7 linked regions of the Homo sapiens genome follow. The protein of the gene in region 7 purifies or fractionates together with the protein of the main gene of each other region. This does not show direct contact. Each region holds a gene or a part of one and is shown on either strand. Other genes may lie near its edges. The genes, in order: ACTR1A, SNRNP70, U2SURP, SNW1, CHERP, SNRPA and SF3A3.

The links.
Region 1: the proteins of SF3A3 (region 7) and ACTR1A fractionate together in Homo sapiens (co-fractionation; one large-scale study listed by BioGRID). This does not show direct contact.
Region 2: the proteins of SF3A3 (region 7) and SNRNP70 fractionate together in Homo sapiens (co-fractionation; 3 studies listed by BioGRID). This does not show direct contact.
Region 3: the proteins of SF3A3 (region 7) and U2SURP purify together in Homo sapiens (affinity purification with mass spectrometry; 2 studies listed by BioGRID, with this or other methods). This does not show direct contact.
Region 4: the proteins of SF3A3 (region 7) and SNW1 purify together in Homo sapiens (affinity purification with mass spectrometry; 2 studies listed by BioGRID and IntAct, with this or other methods). This does not show direct contact.
Region 5: the proteins of SF3A3 (region 7) and CHERP purify together in Homo sapiens (affinity purification with mass spectrometry; 2 studies listed by BioGRID, with this or other methods). This does not show direct contact.
Region 6: the proteins of SF3A3 (region 7) and SNRPA fractionate together in Homo sapiens (co-fractionation; 4 studies listed by BioGRID and IntAct, with this or other methods). This does not show direct contact.

What each region holds. Positions count from the first base shown.
Region 1 is NC_000010.11:102,496,213-102,499,712, forward strand, and holds part of ACTR1A (alpha-centractin), read right to left. Parts: intron 1-3,500. UniProt on the Homo sapiens protein: Part of the ACTR1A/ACTB filament around which the dynactin complex is built. The dynactin multiprotein complex activates the molecular motor dynein for ultra-processive transport along microtubules.
Region 2 is NC_000019.10:49,084,095-49,088,250, reverse strand, and holds the start of SNRNP70 (U1 small nuclear ribonucleoprotein 70 kDa), read right to left. Parts: upstream 2,801-4,156; 5' UTR 2,615-2,800; intron 1,847-2,614; 5' UTR 1,837-1,846; coding exon 1,690-1,836; intron 1-1,689. UniProt on the Homo sapiens protein: Component of the spliceosomal U1 snRNP, which is essential for recognition of the pre-mRNA 5' splice-site and the subsequent assembly of the spliceosome. SNRNP70 binds to the loop I region of U1-snRNA.
Region 3 is NC_000003.12:143,036,070-143,039,569, forward strand, and holds part of U2SURP (U2 snRNP-associated SURP motif-containing protein), read left to right. Parts: coding exon 1-35; intron 36-1,109; coding exon 1,110-1,266; intron 1,267-2,038; coding exon 2,039-2,134; intron 2,135-2,824; coding exon 2,825-2,891; intron 2,892-3,500.
Region 4 is NC_000014.9:77,740,657-77,744,156, forward strand, and holds part of SNW1 (SNW domain-containing protein 1), read right to left. Parts: intron 1-3,500. UniProt on the Homo sapiens protein: Involved in pre-mRNA splicing as component of the spliceosome. As a component of the minor spliceosome, involved in the splicing of U12-type introns in pre-mRNAs.
Region 5 is NC_000019.10:16,525,438-16,528,937, forward strand, and holds part of CHERP (calcium homeostasis endoplasmic reticulum protein), read right to left. Parts: intron 2,819-3,500; coding exon 2,643-2,818; intron 241-2,642; coding exon 1-240. UniProt on the Homo sapiens protein: Involved in calcium homeostasis, growth and proliferation.
Region 6 is NC_000019.10:40,763,546-40,765,889, reverse strand, and holds the end of SNRPA (U1 small nuclear ribonucleoprotein A), read right to left. Parts: intron 2,304-2,344; coding exon 2,215-2,303; intron 883-2,214; coding exon 723-882; 3' UTR 501-722; downstream 1-500. UniProt on the Homo sapiens protein: Component of the spliceosomal U1 snRNP, which is essential for recognition of the pre-mRNA 5' splice-site and the subsequent assembly of the spliceosome. U1 snRNP is the first snRNP to interact with pre-mRNA.
Region 7 is NC_000001.11:37,983,523-37,987,022, forward strand, and holds part of SF3A3 (splicing factor 3A subunit 3), read right to left. Parts: intron 1,258-3,500; coding exon 1,185-1,257; intron 739-1,184; coding exon 647-738; intron 1-646. UniProt on the Homo sapiens protein: Component of the 17S U2 SnRNP complex of the spliceosome, a large ribonucleoprotein complex that removes introns from transcribed pre-mRNAs.

The sequences.
Region 1 (3,500 bases), on a different chromosome or scaffold from region 7:
TCTGGCAACACTAGGCCGGTATTCCTGCATGGGGACAATTGGATAGAAAGGAGAATCAGTTAACATTTTGGTCAGGCATGCTCAATTCAATGCACCTTTCAGATTTCCCAGCCTGGAAGAGGTGCCTTTCAGGCTATTCTCTCTCTTCTCTTTTGAGTATATTTCCATTCCTGCTTGGCCTCTGCAGGCATTGAATTTGAAATCCCTATTCTAGGCATTTGCAGCCACTAATTGGTGACGTTTCTTCTTCCACATGGTATCTGATTTCTTTTTTACCCTCAGAGGACTTAGCTCAGTGTGAAGCACATCCTTGGCTTGCAAAATATACATAATTGAACAGTGAAAATATCTTTATAAGTCACCTCTTCTTCACCTTTTCTGTCAAGCTAGGGATGGATTCTTGCTGAAGCTGTACAACCAACAGCCTGAATATCACACTGCAAGTGACAGTGTTAGATAAATACATTGACTTCATTTCCTCAGCTAATTCTAGTGTCCCTAAAAACTTAAGTGAATCAGCATTAGTAGGATCAGAAAAGCTGATAACAAATTGTAAAAGAAAAATTTTTTTAGACAATTAGTGAAATCTGAACATTGACTAGATAACTGATAAGATTAAGGGGTTCTTGTTGATTTGATTAGGCATGATAATAGTATATTGATTATGTTTTTAAATGAGTGTGGGGCTGGGCGTGGTGGCTCACGCCTATAATCCTAGCACATTGGGAGGCTGAGGCGGGTGGATCCTTTGAGGCCAGAAGTTCGAGACCAGCCTGGCCAACATGGCAAAACCCCGTCTCTACTAAAAATACAAAAATTAGCTGGGCATGGTGGTGCATGCCTGTAGTCCCAACTACTCGGGAGGCTGAAGCAGGAGAATCGCTTGAGCCACGGAGGTGGAGGTTGCAGTGAGCATCACTGCACTCCAGCCTGGGCCACACAGCAGACTCCATCTCAGGAAAAAAAAAAAAAAAAAAAAAAGAATGTGGGAGAGGGAAATGGGCAGGAATGTAGTTGAAAAGATTGGCCAAGAGTTTGATAACTGTTACAGCTAGGTGAACGTATGGATGTTCCTTACACTATTCCTTCTCCTTTGTATGTTTGAAATTGCTATAATAAAAAGAGATAACAGTAGGATGATAGCACTTAAGTAAACTTTCAAAACACAAACAGCACACTCCCCTGCCAAACTTAAAATGCATATGCACATAAAATCATGGATGGATCTAGGCATGGTGGCTTGCTCCTCCTATACTCCCAGCTACTTGGGAGGCTGAGGCAGGAGGTTTGCTCGAGCTCAGGAGTTTGAGGCTGCAGTGAGCTACGACTGCAGCACTGCACTCTAATCTGGGTGATAGAGTGAGACCTCATCTCTAAAAAAAATTTAAAAACAAATAATAATTAAAAATTAAAAAAAATCATAGGTGGAAAGGAGCACAATTTTTTTTTTTAAAGAGATGGGGGTCTTGCTGTATTGCCCAGGCTGGCCTTGAACAACACAATTCTCCTGACTTATCTTCCAGAGTATAAAAGGAGGACAATTTTATGATGATGGTTGTTTTGCGGATTATTTGTAAAACAGAGAGAAAGGATAGGGTTGCCAGGCACAGTGGCTCATGCCTGTAATACCAGCACTTTGGGAAGCTGAGGTGGGAGGACTGCTTCAGCCCAGGAGTTCTAGATCAGCCTGGGGAACACAGGGAGACCCCATTTCTACAAAAAAAAAAAAAAAGGCTGAGCAGGTGGTACACGGCTGTAGTCCCAGCTACTTGGGAGGCTGAGGTGGGAGGATTGCTTAAGCTTGGCAAGCTGAGGCTGCAGTGAGCTTTGATTGTGCCAATGAGCCCCAACCTGGGCAACAGAGTGAGACCTTGTCTCAAAAAAAAAAAAAAGATAGGGTTGTGGAGGGGTACAAAGAGTCTTCAATTATATCTGTAATGTTTTATTTCCTTAAAACATGAAGGTGGATGGGAACACTAAAGCAAAAAAAATACTGAAGCAAATATGGCAACATCAATATTTACTAAATCTGGGTAGTAGACACATGCTACCTGGGTGCTTGTTATATACCACACCGAATTTTTCTGTGTGTTTAAAGTATCTCTCTCTCTCTTTTTTTTTTTTTAAAGGGGGCTGAAGCAGCACAACATCCAAAGCAAAACAAACAAATGCTTAGCTTATTGTTGAACTTCTGAAGAGCCTGCATTTAGGTCCATATAGTCACAAAGACAGTTTTAAGTTTGACAGGAATGTTGATCCATTTTAGGTTCAGGCAAAACTGTAAACTTAGAGTTTTTTTGTTTTTGTTTTTAAATAGGCTGGAGTGAGGTGCACGATCTCACTGCAGCCTCAAACTCCTGGGCTCAAGTGATTCTCCCATCTCAGCCTCCTACAGGTGCATGCCACCAAGCAAGCCTGGCTAATTTTTTTTTTTTTTTAAAGTAGAGATGAAGTCTCACTATGTTGCCCAGGCTGGTCTCCAATTCCTGGGCTCAAACGATCTTCCAGCCTTGGCTTTCCAAAATGCTGGAATTACAGGAGTAAGCCACCACATTTGGCCTGGATCTTAGGAAAAATTTGAGTTTCAGAATAAACATAGTATTCTGATCAAAGTGTAGTCCTCAAAATGTGGCCTAGGAGCTGCTCCTATCTTACACTATTCTCTATGTCTTTGGGAAGAAATGACTTATATTTGGTTTTAAAAAATATCTATCATCATAAAGCTTCTTGGGTGATTAAAAAAATACCTATCACTTTATTGTTGTCATTAAAGCACACACCTACCTGCCCCTCCATTTTCCTCATTAAATTCTGATGAAATGACTTGATGCCAGAGTAAGATGAAAGACGTGGTCACAATTGTCTTATGATTGGGAAAGGCTGTGAACTTAATGGGGCTCTTTCCCTGCTTTCTTTCTCCTGCATTCTTTTGATTATACTCTTCTGCCCATAAATAAAGTGTAGCAACATGTTAAGCTATGGAGTTAACATAGCTAGTGATACATTATTCTCATTATATGTAATAAGTTGTCTCAGGTATTTCAAATAATGTTTCCTATACATCTACCATCTTGAAAATAATAAAAACAAAATGACCCCCCAAATGTTAAACAACAAGGACTACCTGAGACCGCACATGTAAAAATGTGGCAGATTTTCAGCAAATACTAATAGGAAAATGACTTAAGTTTCTCCTACTTCACCTTTTGGCAGAAATACTGGCATAATAAAGGACATGTTTTCCCAGAGGGGGAAAAAAAAGACAAGTCAATTCTTTAAATCTTGAAACTAAAAATGCATCACTGCTGTAATGCATTTCGAAACATACTACCAGGAAAGAGAAAGAAAAAAATTAAGACGCATTAGTGTAAGTGATATTAAAGAAAATGGCCGGAGATGGAACTCCTGCCTAGCAATTCAAGAAGCAAAGGAGCTGGTGGGATAGACAGGTTGTTCCTTCTGCATTGCTGATGAAAACAGGAAATTGAATTTCTATATAT
Region 2 (4,156 bases), on a different chromosome or scaffold from region 7:
AGCCTAGGCAACAGAGCGAGACTCCAAGTCAAAAAAAAAAAAAAAAAAAAAGTACCTGGCTCCCAGGCATGGTGGCTCACACCTGTAATCCCAGCACTCTGGGAGGCCAAGGGGGGTGGATCACCTGAGGTTAGGGGTTCGAAACCAGCCTGGCCTACATGGTGAAACCCCATCTCTACTAAAAATACAAAATTAGCCAGGCGTGGTGGTGCATGCCTGTAATCCCAGCTACTTGAGAGGCTGAGGCAGGAGAACTGCTTGAACCGGAGGCTGCAGTTGGCTAAAATCACGCCACTGCACTCCAGCCTGGGCAACAGAGCAAAACTGTCTCATAAATAAATAAATGGTAACTGGCACATGACCTGCATCATCAAAGGGCACCTACCACCCGCCTGTGCCCATTAAGTTAATTGGCCAGTAATATCTCTCAAGTGCGGGTTCACCAAGGGTGGCAAATCCCACTGAAGACATACCTTTCTGTTATCTACGAAATTCTGCTCTGCAACTCCCTCGCCTCCAGCTGCCCTTACCTACCCAATGCTAGAACGTTCTTCTTGTAACTTCCGACTGTGTGCCAGCTTTTCTCAGGTGTGCTCTGATGCACCTAAGAGATGACCCTTGTCATCCCATTTCACAAATAAAAACACAGAGGTCCAGGAGCCTAAGTCATTCATTCCTATTTATCCCAAAGGTGCAGAGCTAAGATCCCCATCTGCAGTTTTAAGCCCTCCAATACTCAATACTGGGTGCTAAGCCTTTATGAACATCATCTTATTAACAATAAAAGTAGTAAACAGAGTAACAAAGGCTGACATGTGCTGACTGCTTGGTGCCAAGCCCCCTGACATACAGTTTGCCATTTAATTCTCCACCAACATTATAAGGGTGCTACCACTATCCCCTTGCTAAAGATAAAGAAACCAATGCATTAAGAGGATACAACATTTGCCCAAAGTCAGAGCTGATAAATGGTGTGGGTTAGGCATGAATCCTCAACCACTACTCACTGAATTTTCACAAAAATTCTACAAAAGGTGTACTATCAACCCCACTTTTTTTTTTTTTTTTTTTTTGAGACAGTCTTGTTCTGTTGCTCAGGATGGAGTGCAGTGGCGCGATCTCGGCTCATTGCAACCTCCGCCTCCTGGGTTCAAGTGATTCCCGTGCCTCAGCCTCCCAAGTAGCTGGAATTACAGGCACCATGTCCGGCTAATTTTTGTTATTTTTAGCAGAGACGTGGTTTCACCATGTTGGCCAGGCTGGTCTTCAACTCCTCACCTCAAGTGATCCGCCTGCCTCGGTCTCCCAAAGTACTGGGATTACAGGCGTGAGCCACCGTACCGGGCCACAACCCCACTTAAAAAAAAAATTTTTTTTTTGAGAGACGAAGTCCTGCTCTGTCACCCAGGCCGGAGTATAGTGGCACAATCACAAAGCACTCCAGCCTCCGACTCCTGGGCTCAAGCAATCCTCCCACCTCAGCCTCCTGAGTAGCTGAGACTACAGACGCACTCGACCACACCCGACACCCGGCTCCAACCCCATTTAAAACAGAGAAACTGAGGATCACAAAGGTTAAGCCCCTCGCTTAAATCACGCAGCTGGCAAAATGGCCAGAAGCTGGACTCGCAAATCCAACCCGTTGCTCCCCAGAACCCAAACCATTCCTGGCCTGCTCAGTGAACTCACCTCAAACTCTCGAATGTACGGCGCAATGCCACAATAAGGTTGATTGTGGTGTTTTTCATGTGGCAGTTTCTCCAGGGGTGGCAGGTATGGAATAGGGTCACGGGGGGCAAAGAGGGCCAGAAGGTTGGGCGGCAGGAACTGGGTCATCTTGCCAAGTCTGAGAGCAGAAGCAGGACAGCCTTAGGTTAGATCGGGTCTGCACAGAGAAAGCCCCTGTTACTCCTTGACTCTCAAAATAAGAAAGACAGGAGAAAAGTCTCGGAATTAAAACAGGCTCTGTAAGGGCAGAGAACAGTCCTGTGTTGCGGAGAAAAGGGTACGTCTTGGTGGGGGTGGAGGTGAAAGGCCGGTAAAGAAAACAAAAATAACGGCTGGAAAAGGGTTCCTGAAGAGTGAAGTCTCAGAGTCCTCTGACACGAGCTGTGGGGCGGAGAGGTTCCCTGGGAATTTCTGGGGAAATCAAGGACCCGAGGAGGGAGGCCCAGAGCAGCTGTGGCTGCTCGTCCCGTGCCGTGGAGGGCAAATTACGAGATGCAGTTTGCAGGGTCCTGGGGATCGGAAGTTTCCAAGCAAAGAAAGAGAAACATAAGGAGCGAAGCCCCAAAACCAAGTGCTTGTGGGTAACAGACCTGGACCCCGCAAAAAGCGAAAGGAATTATGGGTAAGGGTCCAGGACAACATAGACAAACGAAAAAGAAAAAAGGCCACACACCGCAAGGGCCTGTGGGTAGGGAACCACGAGGGCGCTGTGGGAAGCGGGCGTGGGTGCCCAGAGATTTCGGGGTCCGGGAAAGGGATGCAGAAGGGACCTGTGGCGGGGACGCGGGAAAGGGGCCTGGCCGCGGGGAAGAGGACCGGGCCCACCGCTGGGGCTTCTGGGTAGCGGCCCCGCACCCCGTCGGGCCACTCAGTCACACTCACTCACCGCGTAGCGCCCTCCTCGCTCTGGCGTCTGTCCGGAGGCTCGCGGCGGCTGCGGCAGCCCCTCAGCAACAACAACTCCTGCTTCGGCTTCCACTCCGGGGGCGTCCACGTCCGTCTGATTCCGTCGCCCGCTAAGCGAGCGCACCAGGCCGCTGCTCAGCCACCCGCGCGGCCTCCGATAGCGACTGGAGCAGGGGGTGGGTCCCGGCCGCAAATCCCTCCGCCGTCCTCACTGCGCACGCGCCGTGCGGTGCCAACAACAACCCACACACTAGGACCCGGCGCTGCCGCGGGCACAGCGCACGCGCGAGGTCACTACCCCGCCTTTGGGCACCTTGAGTACCTCAGCCGCGGGGGGCTGGCTTCTGCACTGCGCGCGCGCGCTTGCCCCAAGCCGCCCCTCCACCTCCCGCTTTCCGCGCCGAACCGCCTATGTCCGCGAGACTCTCCCTGATGCTCCGCCCCTTTCCGATCACACTTCCCGGATCTTTCGCGCATGCGTTTTGCGTAGAGAACTGTAACGTACCTCTCCGCCGCCTAGCAAAGAGTCCCTAGGTGAACAGCCTGATTGCGTTGATGTCTAATCTATTCAATCAATAACTATTCATCGAGCATCTCGTGTGTGCTAGGCACTGTCTGGGCTTTGGGGGTACAGCACGTGATTAAAGCAAAGTCTTCTGCTGCTAGGGCTTACATTGTACTGGGAGAGACAATAAAAGCATTTAACTGAATAAAGATAATTTGAGGCCAGGCGCGGTGGATCACGCCTGTAATCCCAGAACTTTTGGGAGGCTGAGGCGGGCAGATCACCTGAGGTCAGGAGTGTGAGACCAACCTGACCAACATGGTGAAAGCCCGTCTCTACTAAAAATACAAAAATTAGCCGGGCGTGGCCGTGCGCGCCTGTAAGCCCGGTTACTCTGGAGGCTGAGGCGGGAGAATCGCTTGAACTCGGGAGGCGGAGGTTGCAGTGAGCCGAGGTCGTGCCATTGCACTCCAGCCTGGGCGACAGAGCGACTCCGTCTCAAAAGTAAATAAATAAATAAATAATAAAAGATAATTTGAGATAGTGGCCAGCATAATGAAGAACGATGGAGCAGAATAAAGGGATGGGAAGTGAGAGCGAGGCTGTTTTAGAAAGGGTGATAATGGAAGGCCCCTCTGAAGAGGTAACATTTGAATAAAGGACAGATAGAAGCGAGATCTGGGGTGGGGCCGGGGGGGCGGTGTTTAACAGTAAGTGCAAAGGTCCTGAACTGAGACCAGATGGCAGGAATCTCAGGTTGTTGGCCATGAGATCAGAGAGCTGGCACTTGTTATTTAGAGCCCTGTTCTTAAGTATTGTATCTTAAGTTTTGTGGATGGATTCAATAGCCTGTTTAATAACTACAGAAATTATTGCAAATTAAAATGACTAATTTTATGTTTCAAGAAAAAGGCCGAGTGCAGTGCTCACGCCTGTAATCCCAGCACTTTGGGAGGCCAAGGCGGGCAGATCACCTGAGGTCAATAGTTCGAGACCAGACTGATCAACATGGAGAAA
Region 3 (3,500 bases), on a different chromosome or scaffold from region 7:
GACTTGTAAATATTATTGAAGAAAAGGAAACAGAGGTAGGCAGTCTGTATTTGTCTGGTTGTTTTTAAAATTCGTTTCTGGGGTGGAGGTTTCTTGGAGTTGTTCTGTGTTACATATGTGAGGTACATTTCTTTGTGAAAAATATCTATTGCTTACCATTAAGTAGTGGATTTTTATTGCTGGAACCCAGAAGTCAAAATTACATGTAACAGGAATTCTCTGTCTTGTGTCCTTATGTGAAAATTGGTGAGTGTTTTTTTTATTTAATGATATAAGAGTTATGATATATTGTTAATAGTAGAAAATAAGCAAGTAATAGAGCAATATGTATAGCATGACTTTATTTTGTTAAAGATAGCTATATAAGTAAAATATGTGCATGAAAAGATGCATCACATGATAGCAGATATACATCACCATTCTGTTGTTTTTTTTCTTTTTTACCTCCTAAATAATTACTGAATCCTTAATGTTTAATTCTGCCATGCTAGTCAAGCTATTATGTTTTCACTTTCACTCCTGCAGGATCTTCCTAATTGGCCTTACTGTTGCAACCCACGTGGTCCTTGTTTCAGTTTCTTAAATGTGTGTTTCCACCTACCATTGGACTTTGTACATGTCCTTCCCTCTTTCTGGGACTTATCTTCACCTGAGATCCTTCAGATCTCAGCTCAAACATAACCTTAGCCTTCTCTGACCTCTTTAAGTGAAACTTAGTATGCTAATAGTATGATACGCCCTTTTGCTGTAGCAGTTACCATAGTTACAGATAAGTATATATTGTTGTGATGATCTGATTTCCTGGTTCCCCCACCCCTGCAAAACAACAGCAAAAACCTTTACCAGGCTCTATAACAGGGGGACCAAACTTGTTTTTGCTCATCATTGCCTCACAAGGTACCTGGCACCAGTGAGCACTTGGTAAATATTAGATAAATGCACAACTGACTGCTTCTTTAGCAAACTGGATGATAGAATATGTTCTTACATTGTACCTCAGATTGTGGGTATCCAGTTATGTTGGCTTGTACTGGATTACAAATTAATCTTACAAGCAATGTGACTTCAGCAAGCAAAGGAAAATGTTATAATAGTACACATTTCCATAGGATGTTCCAGATGACCTTGATGGTGCCCCCATCGAGGAAGAGCTTGATGGTGCACCTCTGGAAGATGTAGATGGAATTCCTATTGATGCTACTCCCATCGATGATCTTGATGGAGTCCCTATAAAAAGTCTTGATGATGATCTTGATGGAGTGCCTTGTAAGTTCAGATTTCAAACTGATTAAATCTAGCTAATACATTTGGTGACCAAAACTCTAATTTCCATACATGCTGATATGGAAAAAGGTTATAGTTTCTCATGAACGTATCAAGTTATTAACTTTTCTATTTCTGATTTTTTTCAAAATTCATATACCCAGTAATACATTTATTTGTATGCTATGTATATAAAAGGCCAAGAAGAAGCATTTTTTTCTGGTCACATTTCTTTGCTGGGACAATCAGCCTCCTATAATATTAGCAAGTTTCTCTTTTTGTCTTGTCAGGAAATTATAGGCAAAATCTTGTGCTCAGTTATGCATGATCCTAGGTACCTGGTTTTATCAGTTTTTATTAGTTTTTCTAACTTACAACTTCAGTTTTCCTAGCTGCCTAAAATCATTTTGAAAATAGGAACTGTAGACAGCTCTTTGGTACATTTGAATTATATGTTTAAATATTGAATAATGTATGCAGTTTTATATTTCAGAGATTAGGTAAAGATATTAAAGATTTGTTTTACTTCTCAACTTCTTCACTTGCTTAATATATTACTAACCTGTATTTTCTGAATTGATATATATACTGTTAAAAATATTGCCCTCAGATGCAGAGAATTGGTTTAGTCATAGTCCTTGTTCTTAGTATTACTATTTGTCCATCTGTGTCCTTATTTTACTTTGCTTTTTAATAATATGGTGAATACCCATGAATGTAATACTTCGGGTCATCCACTAGTAGTCAGGGTTAATGGCTTATCTTTCCCTAATAGTGGATGCAACTGAAGACTCAAAAAAGAATGAGCCTATATTTAAAGTTGCCCCATCAAAATGGGAAGCTGTGGATGAATCTGAATTGGAAGCACAGGGTGAGTAAAAGTAAAATAAATATTTTTTAAATTAAGTACTTGTACGTTAATTATTGGTGTGCTTGTATATATGTTTTCCTTTTATGTTTTATAACACGTTTTAACCTTAATGCTCAATGTTGTCATATTTTGTGTCTAATGTATGCTTTTATTGTGGTTGGTGTTGCTGTTACAATTTTCTTAGGTCCTTCAGTTTGGAAGCTTTGAGAGTAATGAGATATCACTGAAAACCTTTCAGGTTAAGGCATTTTAGTAGCAAATGTAGATTGGAAGCTGTACCTACGTAGAAATCTACATAGAGGTCAGTTTCATAGAAACCAAGCTTTGACCCTCCCATAATGCTAGACTGATTAGATGCAATTTAGACCTGTCTTTCACACTTACTTAGACCTGTATCCTAGTGCTAATAATCTAATTGTTGCTATTTGTAGGTTCTAATGAAATAAATCTTAATATTCAACACAGAAATAAGGATGACATTATTCGTCACTTCATGAATTTGAATTATATTGTAGGTGTGAGGAAAGAGATTTGGCATATAGAAATAACTATTTAGAGAATTGATAAACATAGATTAAAAAAACTTCTGTAATATAAACTTTTCAATTCTAAAGCTTGAGCTTCCACTGTACTACTGAAAAAATGCTAGTTTACCTCGTGGAATTACATCCTCCTTTTCCTTTCATTCAGCTGTTACAACTTCTAAATGGGAATTATTTGACCAGCATGAAGAATCAGAAGAAGAAGAAAATCAAAAGTAAGAATCTAAGTTTTGAATATACTGTTTCTTGTTCATATACACTCCCCTTTTCATTAAGAGATATAGTTGAAATAATAGTGAAGTGGAAAACTTCACTCTTAAAAAATTTTGGGAGAGGATCATTTTTAGTTCTCCATTGGTTTTCCAGTGAATAAAGAGCTTTTGTTTTCTGGTCTTGATGGATCTGGTTTCATTTTGCTTTTGAGTTTTTTACGCTAGGTTATATTCTCACTTTGTAGTTACTAATTGGTCAACTGCATTTTTTTCAAACCTTTGCCATCAAATACTGTTTTGGGCTCCATAAAAAGTGGTTTTTAAAATGTGAATAGGAAAGGTTATACTCCTTTCTTTTGGATTGTACATTCTAAGAAAAAGATTGCATTATGGCCATTGTGTTATTTAAATATAAACCTTTCAGAAGAACTAAGAATGAATACAAAGGAAAAAATCTTTTCTTTTGAAATATAGAGAAATAATAATTTTGATTTTGCTGTTTGGTAATCACCCCAAAATTGTTTTTGTATTTGACACTGTGTGGTTGTAGGAATCTCTCCTCTCAGATTCTCCTGCAAGTCTGTATTGGCAGTTTTTAGGAAGTTCTTGACA
Region 4 (3,500 bases), on a different chromosome or scaffold from region 7:
CCATTATCGAGGCTTCTTCTGATTGCCTTAGTAGTAACCCCTCCCCACCCAATCATTTGCTCCATAGCACTGTTTACTGTGATCAAGACTGTTCACAGCATGAAATTATCTACTTTACATGGTTATTATCTGTCTCCCGTATTAAAACAATAAAAACGGGGAGGGCACGGTGGCTCACGCCTGTAATCCCAGCACTTTGGGAGGCCGAGGTGGGTGGATCACCTGAGGTCAGGATTTCAAGACCAGCCTGACCAACATGGTGAAACCCCGTCTCTCCCAAAAACAGAAAAATTAACCAGGCATGGTGGTGGGTGCCTGTAATCTCAGCTACATGAGACGCTGAGGCAGGAGAATCGCTTGAACCCAGGAGACGGAGGTGACAGTGAGCCGAGATCATGCCATTGCACTCCAGCCTGAGCAACAAGAGTGAAACTGTCTCCAAAAAAAAAAAAAAAAAAAAAAGTGTCTCCTGTGCTTTATAATAATGACTGGAGATATTTGATCAATATTTTTTGTACAAATGAATAAATAAATGAATTTTAGAGATATTCTGTTACATGCTAAAGGTGTTTATAGGCCATGAACAGTGACTCACGCCTGTAATCACAGCATTTTGGAAGGCCAAGGTTGGAGGATAGCTTGAGCCCAGGAATTCGAGACCAGCCAGGGCAACATGGCAAGACCTATCTCTATTTTAAAGAATGGATGGATGAATGAATAAATAAATAAGTTTATATTTTAGGCCGTACAGAACTTTCTATAAGCTACTGATTTCCCAGAAAAAACTATCTCATGGCTATACACTAAAATCTCCAGCTTGTTTTTCTCAGGAGTGAGAAGAGGGATCAGGTAAGAAAGCCTAAGATGATTTAGCACAAAACACGTACTACTGATATGTGAGTTATTAGTGTCACCATACTCTAAGAGTGTTGATTTTGGAAGGGACCATAAAGCTCACTCTACTGAAAAGAGTGAGGTTCAGTACATTAAGATCATACAGCTACTATCTGACCTCAAAAGTCTTATTTCCTCTCAGCATGGAAAAACCTATACAACCCTAAGCTGAAAATTATATAACAACACAAGAAAAAAATACCAATTCTATGAAGAGTTAATCATGAGGAGTTTATCACTTCTCCATAGCAACGGTTATAAGGAAAGGATTCTAAGTAAATGGCTCCCTGGTAGTCATGTATGTTCAACATAAAGTGTCAATACTAATTTAGCATACAAGAGTCATTTGCTGCTCCTTATTTGGGCATTCCAAAGTTAATAACCCTTCAAATGAGCATCAATAAGATTCTAGTATCTCACAAGGCTGAGTGAAGGACATCTGAAGAGCAAGATTCCTCCATAGTAATTAATTATAAAACCCCCCATTTTTTTTTTTTTGAGACGAAGTCTTGCTCTTGTTGCCCAAGCTGGAGTGCAATGGCGTGATCTCAGCTCATAGCAACCTCCGCCTCCCGGGTTAAAACCATTCTCCTGCCTCAGCCTCCCTCCCAAGTTGCTGGGATTACAGGCGCATGACACCACGTCCAGCTAATTTTTGTATTTTTATTAGAGATGGGGTTTCACCATGTTGGCCAGGCTGGTCTCGATCTCCTGACCTCAGGCGATCCACCCGCCTCGGCCTCCCAAAGTGCTGGGATTACAGGCGTGAGCCACAGCACCTGGCCAAAACCCCAAATTTTTATAGTCTGAGAATTAAATGTGCTGAGGAAACTGAGTACCAGGAGGCAAATGGGCTGGGGAGCGTTTTCTGAAAAATACAATATACTCTTGAAAGTATCAGAAGCACAAATAAGCTTTGTCAACAAGATAAAGTAGTAACTCATCTGTGAAACAGATATTTTATTACAGAAAACTGGCAAAGAACTAGACTGACTAAAAGGATAAGCCTGTCAAAACATTCACTATGTGAGGTAGAAAGAAAACGCTAATCTAGCTTAGCTAGTGTGTGAAATCATACAAACAAGATAACATATAATTTATCATGGGGTCAGTTTAAAGTTGTTACGGTTTTTTAGGGGTAATACGTTGAAGGCATTCTTTTGGGTATAGTACGTGTGTAACATTTCGTTTCTTTAAGAGATAGGGTTTCATTATATTGCCCAGGCTAGTCTCAAACTCCTGGCCTCAAATGATCCTCCCACCTCAACCTTCCCAAAGTGCTGGGATTACAGGCATGAGCCAATGCACTTGGCCTGTATGTAGTATTTCTTACATAACTATTTCAGAGGGAAAAATACATACACCAAGCCCTTTATTTCAAGATTTATCACTTGGCTGGGTGTGGTGGCTCATGCCTGTAATCCCAGCACTTTAGGAGGCCGAGGTGGGTGGATCACCTGAGGTTGGGAGTTGGAGACTAGCCTGACCAACACGGAGAAACACTGTCTCTACCAAAAATACAAAATTAGTCAGGCGTGGTGGCACATGCCTGTAATCCCAGCTACTCAGGAGGCTGAGGCAGGAGAATCACTTGAACCCGGGAGGCAGAGGTTGCGGTGAGCTGAGATCGTGCCATTGCACCCCAGCCTGGGCAACAAGAGCAAAACTCCGTTTCAAAAAAAAAAAAAGATTTATCACTTTCATAATTAGGAAAAAAAAAGCATTTGGTTGTATCAAGATTTACACTAAAAAAAACTTTTTCATCCCCAATTTTGTATGACTAATAAGTCGTATACACAGTACTTACTTCACATGTAGAGAATTGCCTTAGACTTGTCCTAGAATATTACGTCTTAGAATCCTCACTGATTCTTCTCACCTCTTATACCTAACACCTAGTATTTTCCATTCTTACTCATTCACTATTAATATTTCAGTGAGAACTCCCTCGTTTCTGAAGAATACCAGACCTCTCGGAAGCAAATCAGAAATCTTAGTCCAAATTCATAAATCCAATAACCTGTTCAGTCTCTGGAATAACAAATTTTTTAAATCCTATTTTATATATTATGCAGTCCATTTCTATTTCTTCTAAAACAGGAAAATCAGTGATTGTCAAACAGGGCATCACTGCCACCTCTAACTCCTCTCTCCCAGTGCCTTTGTAAATGTGTGAGGTGTTTCTAGTTAAGACAATGGGGGTAGGATGGGGACGCTACTGGGATTTATAGGTAGTGCCACTTATGCTAAACATTGTACAATGCTGAAGATGGTCCTAAACAATCAAAGTGCTCCCCCAGTGCCAATGGCACATAATAGTTACTTGATTAATGTTGAATTACTCAATGCATTCCAAACTTCATGCATGAATCTATCCACTTCTAGAAAACAAACAAACAAAAAGATATAAACCTGAGAGTGGTCCCAGTTTGGGGTTTGTTTCTAGTGGCTGCATTACAGACAAAAGCAACGATCTGGCCGGGTGTAGTCGCTCATGCCTGTAATCCCATCACTTTGGGAGGTTGCAGTGAGCCAAGATCGTGCCACTGCATTTCAGCCTGGGTGACAGAGTGAGACTCCATCTCAAAAAAAAAAAAAAAGAAAAA
Region 5 (3,500 bases), on a different chromosome or scaffold from region 7:
GCGGAAGGGTGGCTCGCGCTGGCCCCCGCCCCAGGGCGGCTGCTCGTGCTGGCTGTTCCAGGGGCCCTCGAACTGGCTGTTCCAGGCGGCGTCGGGCTGGTTGTTCCAGGGCGCGTCGCGCTGGCCGTTCCAGCCGGGGTCACCGCGCTGCTCGCCCCACATGCCCTCATGGCTGTTGTTCCAGGGGGGGCAGTGGGGTGGGCCGCCCTGGTGGTGCGGGTAGGGTGGCTGCTCTGGCGGCTGCAAGGGAAGGGACAGGCTTGAGCCCTGCGTGGTCTAGGCCCTAGTGCTCGGCAGCATCACAGCGCTCGGCAGCATCACAGCGCTGGCTCAGACCATGGAGGCGCTGCCCTGGCCACGTTGAGGCGCCTCCTACGCTGACGCCTGCGAGGATGCTGGGCACCTGCTCTCAGCCCGCACCACATGCTGCTGCAAAATGACCAGACACCCAACCGCTGCACCCGCATCTCAGTCCCGGGGCTGTTTCTGCCGCTGGGGCGCGCTGCACCCGCACACAGGCCGCCCGCGCCACAAGGTGCTCCCCGCTACCACTGCCAGACAAACGCCAGCTCCCTCGCCCCTCAGGGGCAGGTGCAGAGGCACAGACGGTATCGCTTCTCAGGGCACCCCAGGCACCCATGGGGCGGGGCTCACTCTGACACCCCCTGCCCTGCCTCACTCCCCCTCTCCCCAAAAGCCGTCTGCTGGGCAGATACACTGCGGCACACACATCCTTGTCCTGGGGTCTGCTTCTGGGGACTTTCAAACCAAGCCAGCATCTTCCTGTAGACTGAAGACGGGAGGCTCTTCCCTCATCAGCTTCTGCTCTGGAGACTTAAAGCCAGGAGGGCAAACTCCAGCTTGGGCAGGGGAGGGGAGGAGCACAGAGGCCAATGAGAAGGCCGGTGTCTAGGGTCACAGCTGGGTAACTGCGCTGACCCCTACTAAGGGGAGGCTGGCCCAGGCTGCCACATTCACCAGGCTTCCAAGAGAAGCCAGAGAGCCAGATATTAAATATCAGGAACTACTTGTTTTTCTTTTTCTTAATTTGAGACAGTCTCGCTCTGTTGCCCAGGCTGGAGTGCAGTGGCGCGATCTTGGCTCACTGCAACTTCCACCTCCCGGGTTCAGGTGATTCTCCTGCCTCAGCTTCTCGAGTAGCTGGGATTATAGGCGCCTGGCACCATGCCCGGCTATTTTTTTATCTTTAGTAGAGGCGAGGTTTCACCACGTTGGCCAGGCTGGTCTCAAACTCCTGACCTCAAATGATCTGCCCACCTCAGCCTCCCAAAGTGTGGGATTACAGGCGTTAGCCACCACGCCCAGCCTTGCTTTTCTTTTTTAGAGACAAGGTCTCACTCTGTCACCCAGGCTGGAATGCAGTGGCATGACCATAGCTCAATGAAGCCTGAAGTCCTGGCTGAACCAATCTTCCTGCCTCAGACCACTGTGTAGCTGGGACGACAGGTGTGCACCACCATGCCAGCTTATTTTTATTCTTTGTAGAGATGGAGTCTTGCCTTGTTGCCCAGGCTGGTCCCAAACTCCTGGCCTCAAGCAATCTTCCTGCCTTGAGAAATTACTTTTAAACGTGTTAAGACCCCACATGGCCAAGTCAAGCAGGCCAGGCTGCTGTTTCTCAGTGTGGACTGCAGGATGCACTGCTGGCCTAGCGGGCACCCTCAGTGAGGGGCGTGCCCATTGTCCTGAGCCCAACCCTCTGGTCTGCAAAAAGACTGAGCCTGGAGACACTAAGGGCCTGTTTCCACACCTACAAAACAGGGACAAGAACTGCCCCCCCCAGCAGAGGGTACCTGCAAAACAGCCACCACCATCTGGCTCCTGGCCAGCACTTGGAGGTGGGAGCTGTCTTTATGGGGGTGTCCAATCTTTTGTGAGGTTCAATTTCGTGTCCTGAAGCTGGGGATGGGAGGCTCAAAGCCACAACCACCAAGTCTCAGTCCAGAGCCAGTCTCCTTGCCATCCTTACACCTGTCCCTGCAGACAGGGAGTCACCTGGAAAGGCCACGCTGCGAAGCCAACCAGGCCCCACGGGCAAGGGGGAAAGTCACGCCCTGGAAGACCCGGGGCTGTGCCTCAGTGCTGAAAGTGGACCCAGCACGCTGCAGGGCATTTCACAGCCATGCTGTGCCACATAAGGTGGCCCCTGCCTTGGCCCAGGGGTATGTGACCCATAGCAAAGCTGCATCTGAGGCCTCCCAGGGGCAACACGGCTGACATTTCTGACATTCCCCCTTTCCTTACAAAAGCACCTTGTTCTTTCCAGGATGACAAAACACTGACACTCAACTAGCTTAACCTGTTTAAGGAGGACAGGAAACAGAACACCCTGCCGTGCCTTGCAGCGTTAAACTCCCCTGCACTCGCAGGACAATGGTGATCTATACTACAGAGAAGCCCAAACCATCAAAGCTCGGGGAAGGGACGTGAAGACCTGTCACTTGACCTGTCCCGGAGCCACAGGAAGACAGGGCTGTCACTAACCCAGCATAAGCTCTGCCACAGAATATCCCTCATTGTTCCCCAGTAAGCCACTCAACGCCCACCAACTGGCATAGGGGAGGCTACCCCATCAGGCCAAGTGTGCCCCATCTGCTCCCACCCCAGGTTCCAATCAATACCTGCTGCTGGCCCCAAGGAGCCACGGGGTGAGGCTGGTCAAACCAAGGGGGCTTGTTTGGTGGGATCTGGTCGTGTGGCCCGGGGCCCCGGGGGCCGGCAGCTGCAGGATCCTGGACCCCTCCTGGAGCTTCGTACTCTGAAGAGCCAGGCATCTGGATGGGAGGCTTGCTGTCATCTAAATCCAAGTGACAGGCAGTTAGAGCAGGCCTGGCAGCAGGAGGCGCTGTCTCCTCTCCACACTACCCCAGAGCAAACCAGGCTACCGCTTTTAGTGCCCAGTGGATGATCGCTTCAGGACCCACTAAAACCATGACTATCACTGGCTTCCAGGAAGGGGACAGGGCGAGGGGAGGTTTCGACCTTGAACATGACACACATCTGTCCTTTTCAAAGCTTTACAAGAAACAGGCCTCACTTCTGCCTTCTTGGTTTGCTGAAGAATTTCTATCCACACTGAATTTGATTAGACATCTTTACTGTATCTAATTAAAAGGTCATTTCCCCACATCTGTTATTTTCTATTCTATACAATCCTCATATTCCTACAACAAATCTTCTTTGATCAGAATGTAATTTTAAAATCCTTTGCTAGGCCGGGTGCGGTGGCTCACGCCTGTAATCCCAGCACTTTGGGAGGCTGAGGTGGGTGGATCCCAAGGTCAGGAGATCGAGACCATCCTGGCTAACACGGTGAAACCCCGTCTCTACTAAAAATACAAAAAAGTAGCTGGGCATGGTTGCGTGCGCCTGTAGTCCTAGCTACTCAGGAGGCTGAGGTAGGAGAATGGCGTGAACCCAGGAAGCGGAGCTTGCAGTGAGCTGAGATCACGCCACTGCACTCCAGCCTGGGCGACAGA
Region 6 (2,344 bases), on a different chromosome or scaffold from region 7:
CGCCCCATGATTTCAGCAGCACCAAGTTTCCTGTATTAAATTCCTTTCTGTTTGAACTACCTACTGTGGTTTCTCTGGGGCCATTGCTACAACAGGCTGCACTTTTGAGAAGAGTAAAAAAAAGGTGAAGAAACACCTCTCCCTGAACACTCTTGTCATCTGTTAGAAAAGTGGTGGCATAAACTTGTAAGCCTACAAAGTGAATGGTGTGCCCTTAAAAGGTGCCATTCTTGTGCAGTACCCATCCTGCCTAACTGTACGCGGCAGCCCTGACTTTCCATTTCCTGACCCAGGATTCCATTTCCTGCTGTGAATTGGGACAACATACAAAACTGCCAAAGTAGTCATTGTAACCTGAGTTTGAACAATATTACTACACTATCCTATGTTTCCCCAAGGTTGCAAACCTCAAAATGCCAAGAGGTCCAAAAACCCAGGATGTGCTGCTGAGGTGGAGGGAAAGGAACCATGAAGAGCAAGAAAATCAGACAGACAAATGATTGTGAAAAACCAAACCTCAAAAAGCCACTTTAATTCCGGCCTAACAGCGCCAGGTGCAATGTCTGGGGACAGACTCTGGGTACAATGCTGTGTGGCGACCACTCACTCACACACGGCTCCAAGAAGGCCCCCAAGGGGGGACTTACCTTCAGGGGGCTGAGCCAAGGGGGAAAGGGGTGGCCCCAGAACAGGGGAAGGGGCAGGCATGGGGGGAAAAGGTGCTACTTCTTGGCAAAGGAGATCTTCATGGCGTTGTTCTGCGTGATCTTAAAGCCCTGCAGGGCATCGCGAGCTGCCCCTGCCTGTACCTCATTGTCAAACTCCACGAAGGCGATGTCATGCCGCCCGGGTACCAGACGGACCTCCTTGAAGCCAGGGAACCTGAAAGAGAACGACAGACCTCAGGGACTCAGCATTTCCCCCTAACGTAACGGCATCAAGTGGACAGAGGCCAGAAATGATGCCAAATAGCCTCCAATGCACAGGGCAGGGCCCCATTACTCAGAATTATCCAGCCCAAAATGCAGATAGTACTAAGTTGAAAAACTCTAATGTAAACATAGCATTTAATGAAAAATTTAAACACAAACACCCATGCAACTGCAACCTAAATCAAGAAACAGTACACCGCAGTCTCCTGGGCCCTTCCTAAATCATAACCCACCCGCCACACCAAAAAAATAACCAATACCCTCACTTTTTCCATTTTTATTCTTGTATTTTTAGGAGAGAAGGGGTTTCACCAAGTTGCCCACATTGGCCTCGAACTCCTGACCTCAAGTGATCCACCTGCCTCAGCCTCCCAACATACTGGGATTTTAGGCGTGAGCCACCGCACCCGGCCTTACCCTCACTTTTCTGATATGCTGTTTCTCTAATTTCCCTCTTCTCATTCCATACTTCTTTCTCCATTAAGCAGCCATCCTCATGTTTACTAGGTATCCTTTTTTCCATCGGCATTCTCACAAAATATACAGCTTTGTGGACAGGCTGCACATGTGGTATTGTTTTTCTGTATTTTTCAGGTTCTCACAATCTTCTCTCGGCACTATTATAAAGTTGCGCTTTCTGTTCTTCTAAGTGCCACGCAGTGCAGCATGGTGAGATGCTGCATGTAGCCATCCCTTCTCCCAGACACCCTCCAACTCCCCACCACAAACACTGACGAATGCCCCACTCACAGCCCCTGAAACAGAACCACCAGATGAACTCACCCACACCCACGACTTCACTCAACAATGGTGAACAGCCCCTCTACACATCGGCTGCACCGGCCTCCACCCTGACGCCAGGCACAAGAGTTTCACGCATCCCCATCTCCCACACTTGCTGTTTCTGAGCACGCTGACTTCTGCCAGTCTTAGCCAATGTTCAAGGACATCTCAATGCAGTTTTACACATACCTTGCCTTGCATGCCCCCATTTTAGGGGCTGGGAAAATGAGGCCCAGAGCCTGGACTCCCTCAGCCCTCAAACAAGGCTGAAAAAAGCCGGCAAGCCCTGGCCATGGAGACCTTTCCAGCCTCACCCCCATGTCCCCCACAGGCCGTGGGCCCAGCCACAGCCTCCTCCTTTCACATCTTTGGTCGCTGTCCCTTCTGCAAAGCCCTACTTGGCTCAGAGCTCTGCTGGCAGAGTTCTGAGGCCTGTTTCCATGGAGATGCCTCCTGGCCATCACCCTCCAGGGACCACCCAGCCACAGGCCCCACTTACTGATTGAAAAGCATGGACAGCATGAGCTCGTTGGTCTCCTCTGGCAGGTTGGTGAGGAACAAGATGTGATTCGGTGGATTCTCAGAAAGCTGCGGGGGTATAGGGGAGTCGGTGAGCACAAGAGCCCTGA
Region 7 (3,500 bases):
GCTACAGTGAGCCAAGATCGCGCCACTGCACTCCAGCCTGGGTGACAAAGTGAGACCCTGTCTCAAAAAAAAAAAAAAAAAAAAAAGATTTATTTTGGCAAAGGTAAAATATGCTTGCTGTATTGATAATGGACTGGGTACAATGGCTCATGCCTGTATCCCAACACTGTGGGAGGCCGAGACAGGAGGATCATTTGAGGTCAGGAGTTTGTGACCAGCCTGGGCAACACTGCAAGACCCCATCTTTACAAAAAAAGACAAAAATTAGCCAAGTGTGGTGGTGGTATGCACCTGTAGCCTCAAATACTCAGAAGGCTAAGGCAGGAGATCACTTGAGCCCAGAAGTCGAGGTTGCAGTGAGCAAAGATCATACCACTGCACTCCAGACTGGGCAACATGGTAAGACCTCATCTCAAAATAAAAAAAAAAGTATTAATAAATAAATATGCTTCTTGTTTTCACTGTAGAAAACTTTCATTTTGAATAGTATTTCATTCCAAGAGAGCATATCACCTCTTTAATATTTACATAAGAGTTTTAAAACACAAGGAAGACACTTTACAATGGCTTCATGTCTGCTAGTTCCAGCCTACTGTCCTGACTCACTTCGAGAATCAGAACCTCTCTGCCCTTTCCCAGGCCTTACCTCAGATGCCTTCAGGTTAATGTACTTGAGGTAACAGTCATGGAGATCGAGATAACGACCATATCCCTCTTCATCTGTGAACTCCACCAAGTCTGAGGGAATCAGATACATCAATGATTCAGTTTCTACAGACCACTCTCTTGGACTTACCTTTTCAAATGGACTGTGTGTTCCTAGTTTCCTGAGGCAGCACTTCACCCAAATGTCTTCCCTTTGCTCACAATATAACCTCCAATAAGTTAAGTGAGATCAAAAGTGAGTTTTCTCTTACAAGGTAACAAGGACTGACTCATTTTAGTATTGTGAACTAAAGTGAACAATCCTTGGCTTTCCAAGCCAGTAAATTTGAGGTAGGAGAGAACAAAATGAACATTTTGCCCAAGACCAACTTAGGATGTCACTCTAGCCCAGAAACCAGCAAAGACAAAACCAGCAAGAAATCCTGGCTATAAATATCTCTGAGGCCATGGCTGCAAATCTGAGCTGTCATTAACCTGTATTTTTGCTGGTGCTGAATGAAATTTTCACCCCTACTTACTTTGTGCCTCTTCACTTGGATTCTCTCGAGCCTTCAGGAGTTCCTCAAATTCCACTGACATTGGCACACAGATCTGAGGGGAAAAGTAAAAGCTCAGGTGGATTTTTCTTTTTGCTTTTGAGATGGATTCTCACTCTGTGGCCCAGGCTGGAGTGCACTGGCACAATCTTGGCTCACTGCAACCTCTACCTCCCGGGTTCAAGCGATTGTCCTGCCTCGGCCACCCGAGTAGCTGGGATTATAGGCACACACCACCACGCTTGGCTAATTCTTGTATTTTTAGTAGAGACAGGGTTTTGCCATGTTGCCCAGGCTGGTCTCAAACTCCTAAGCTCAAGTGATCTGCCCACCTTGGCCTCCCAAAGTGCTGGGATTACAGGCATGAGCCACTGTGCCTGACCGCAGGCGGATTTTTCAATGTAAAAGTTGCAAGATCACAGAAATGAAATACACAGAAAGTTGGACTTCTGATGATTTATTTGGCCTTGATTTTTCACTAGGAAATCTACTACTGTTCTCCAATTACCTTGTTTTTCCCCGCTTTTTTGTACTGTTTGAGTAAAACCCACTAAAGTAACACATGCTCACAAAAACTCAAAAGTCCACCTTTATTAATTCTCCTGAGAACAGGTGACCACTGTTAACAGAGCTTTTGCTATGCCAGTGGTTCCCAAACTTTGCTGCACATTAGAATCACCTGGGGGAGTTTTTTTTTTAAATCCTGATGCACCTGATACCAATTAAATCAAAGGAGGGCAGGTATCAGTACTTTTTAAAGATCCCCAGGTGGCTCAAATATGCACAAAGTTTGGAAAACAGTGCTCTATGTATTTAAATATATGTATTTGTACAAGTACATTCATGCCTGCATAGGTTTTTGTTTTTGTTTTTTTAACATAAAAGACTTGCGTCTGACATTTAGTATATCTTGGGCATCCTTCTAATCAGTTATTTAAGCATTTATTCCTCATTACCTTTTGACCATGGCTGGAATAAGGTTAACACATCAGAATGGTATTCATTTATTCTCCCTTGGTTAGCAGAAGACCTCATTCTCTATCCTCCAAGGGGGCTATGTGTGTGAGGGTCCCTTCATTTACCTCCGCGCTATGTATTGCAATAAACAGCCTCTATTTTTTGCTGTTTTTAGTCTCTTCCTTTTTCCCTGTGCTCCTTCAAATAAGTATGCTTCTCTGTCTTCCCCAATACCCTCCTGTTTCTCCCCTTCTTTTTCCTACCAGACTTTTTTTTTTTTTTTTTTTGACGGAGTCTTGCTCTGTTGCCCAGGCTGGAGTGCAGTGGCGTGATCTCAGCTCACTGCAACCTCCATGTCCTGGGTTCAAGCGATTCTCCTGTCTCAGCCTCATGAGAAGCTGGGATCACAGGCGTGCACCACCATGCCCGGCTAATTTTTGTGTTTTTAGTAGAGAGAGGTTTCACCATTTTGGCCAGGCTGGTCTCCAACTCCTGACCTCAGATGATCGACCCGCCTCGGCCTCCCAAAGTGCTGGGATTACAGGCGTGAGTCACTGCACCTGGCTACCAGCCTTTCAAATGCATGTTCCATACTCCATACTTCTACTTCCCCATTACCCATCTTTACCTTGTGACCAGATTTCCATTCATACTACTTTAATGAAGCAGCAATCCTGGCAGATATAAATCAATAACAGTTGACACCATGACTGCCTTTCTGAAACTCTCTTTTGCTTAACTTCAGTAAGGCAACACCACCTGGAGTGGTCATGTGACCTTTCTGATGGAAGCCTTCCCAGGCCCTTTTTCTCTTTACCTTATTATAAGTGAGCTCCAGGGCATATGAGGGCCGGGCGCGGTGGCTCATGCCTGTAATCCCAGCACTTTGGGAGGCCGAGGTGGGCGGATCACAAGGTCAGGAGATAGAGACTATCCTGGCTAACATGGTGAAACCCTGTCTCAACTAAAAAATACATAAAATTAGCCAGGCGTGGTGGCAGGCACCTGTAGTCCCAGCTACTCAGGAGGCTGAGGAAGGAGAATGGCATGAACTCGGGAGGTGGAGCTTGCAGTGAGCCGAGATCATGCCACTGCACTCCAGCCTGGGCAACAGAGCGAGACTCCATCTCAAAAAAAAAAAAAAAAAAAAAGACAGAGTTAGGAACACAATTTATTGGGGAGAGTAATTTCTGTGAAAGATAAAAAGGAAGAGAAAGTAGGATTAGGACAGGATAGCCTAGACCACAATGCAGATTGGACAAAATCTTGACCAACCCAACGGGGAGCCATGGAGCAAAGATTATTCATCAGAGGAGTCTCAGAGTGGACCAAATTGCTGGG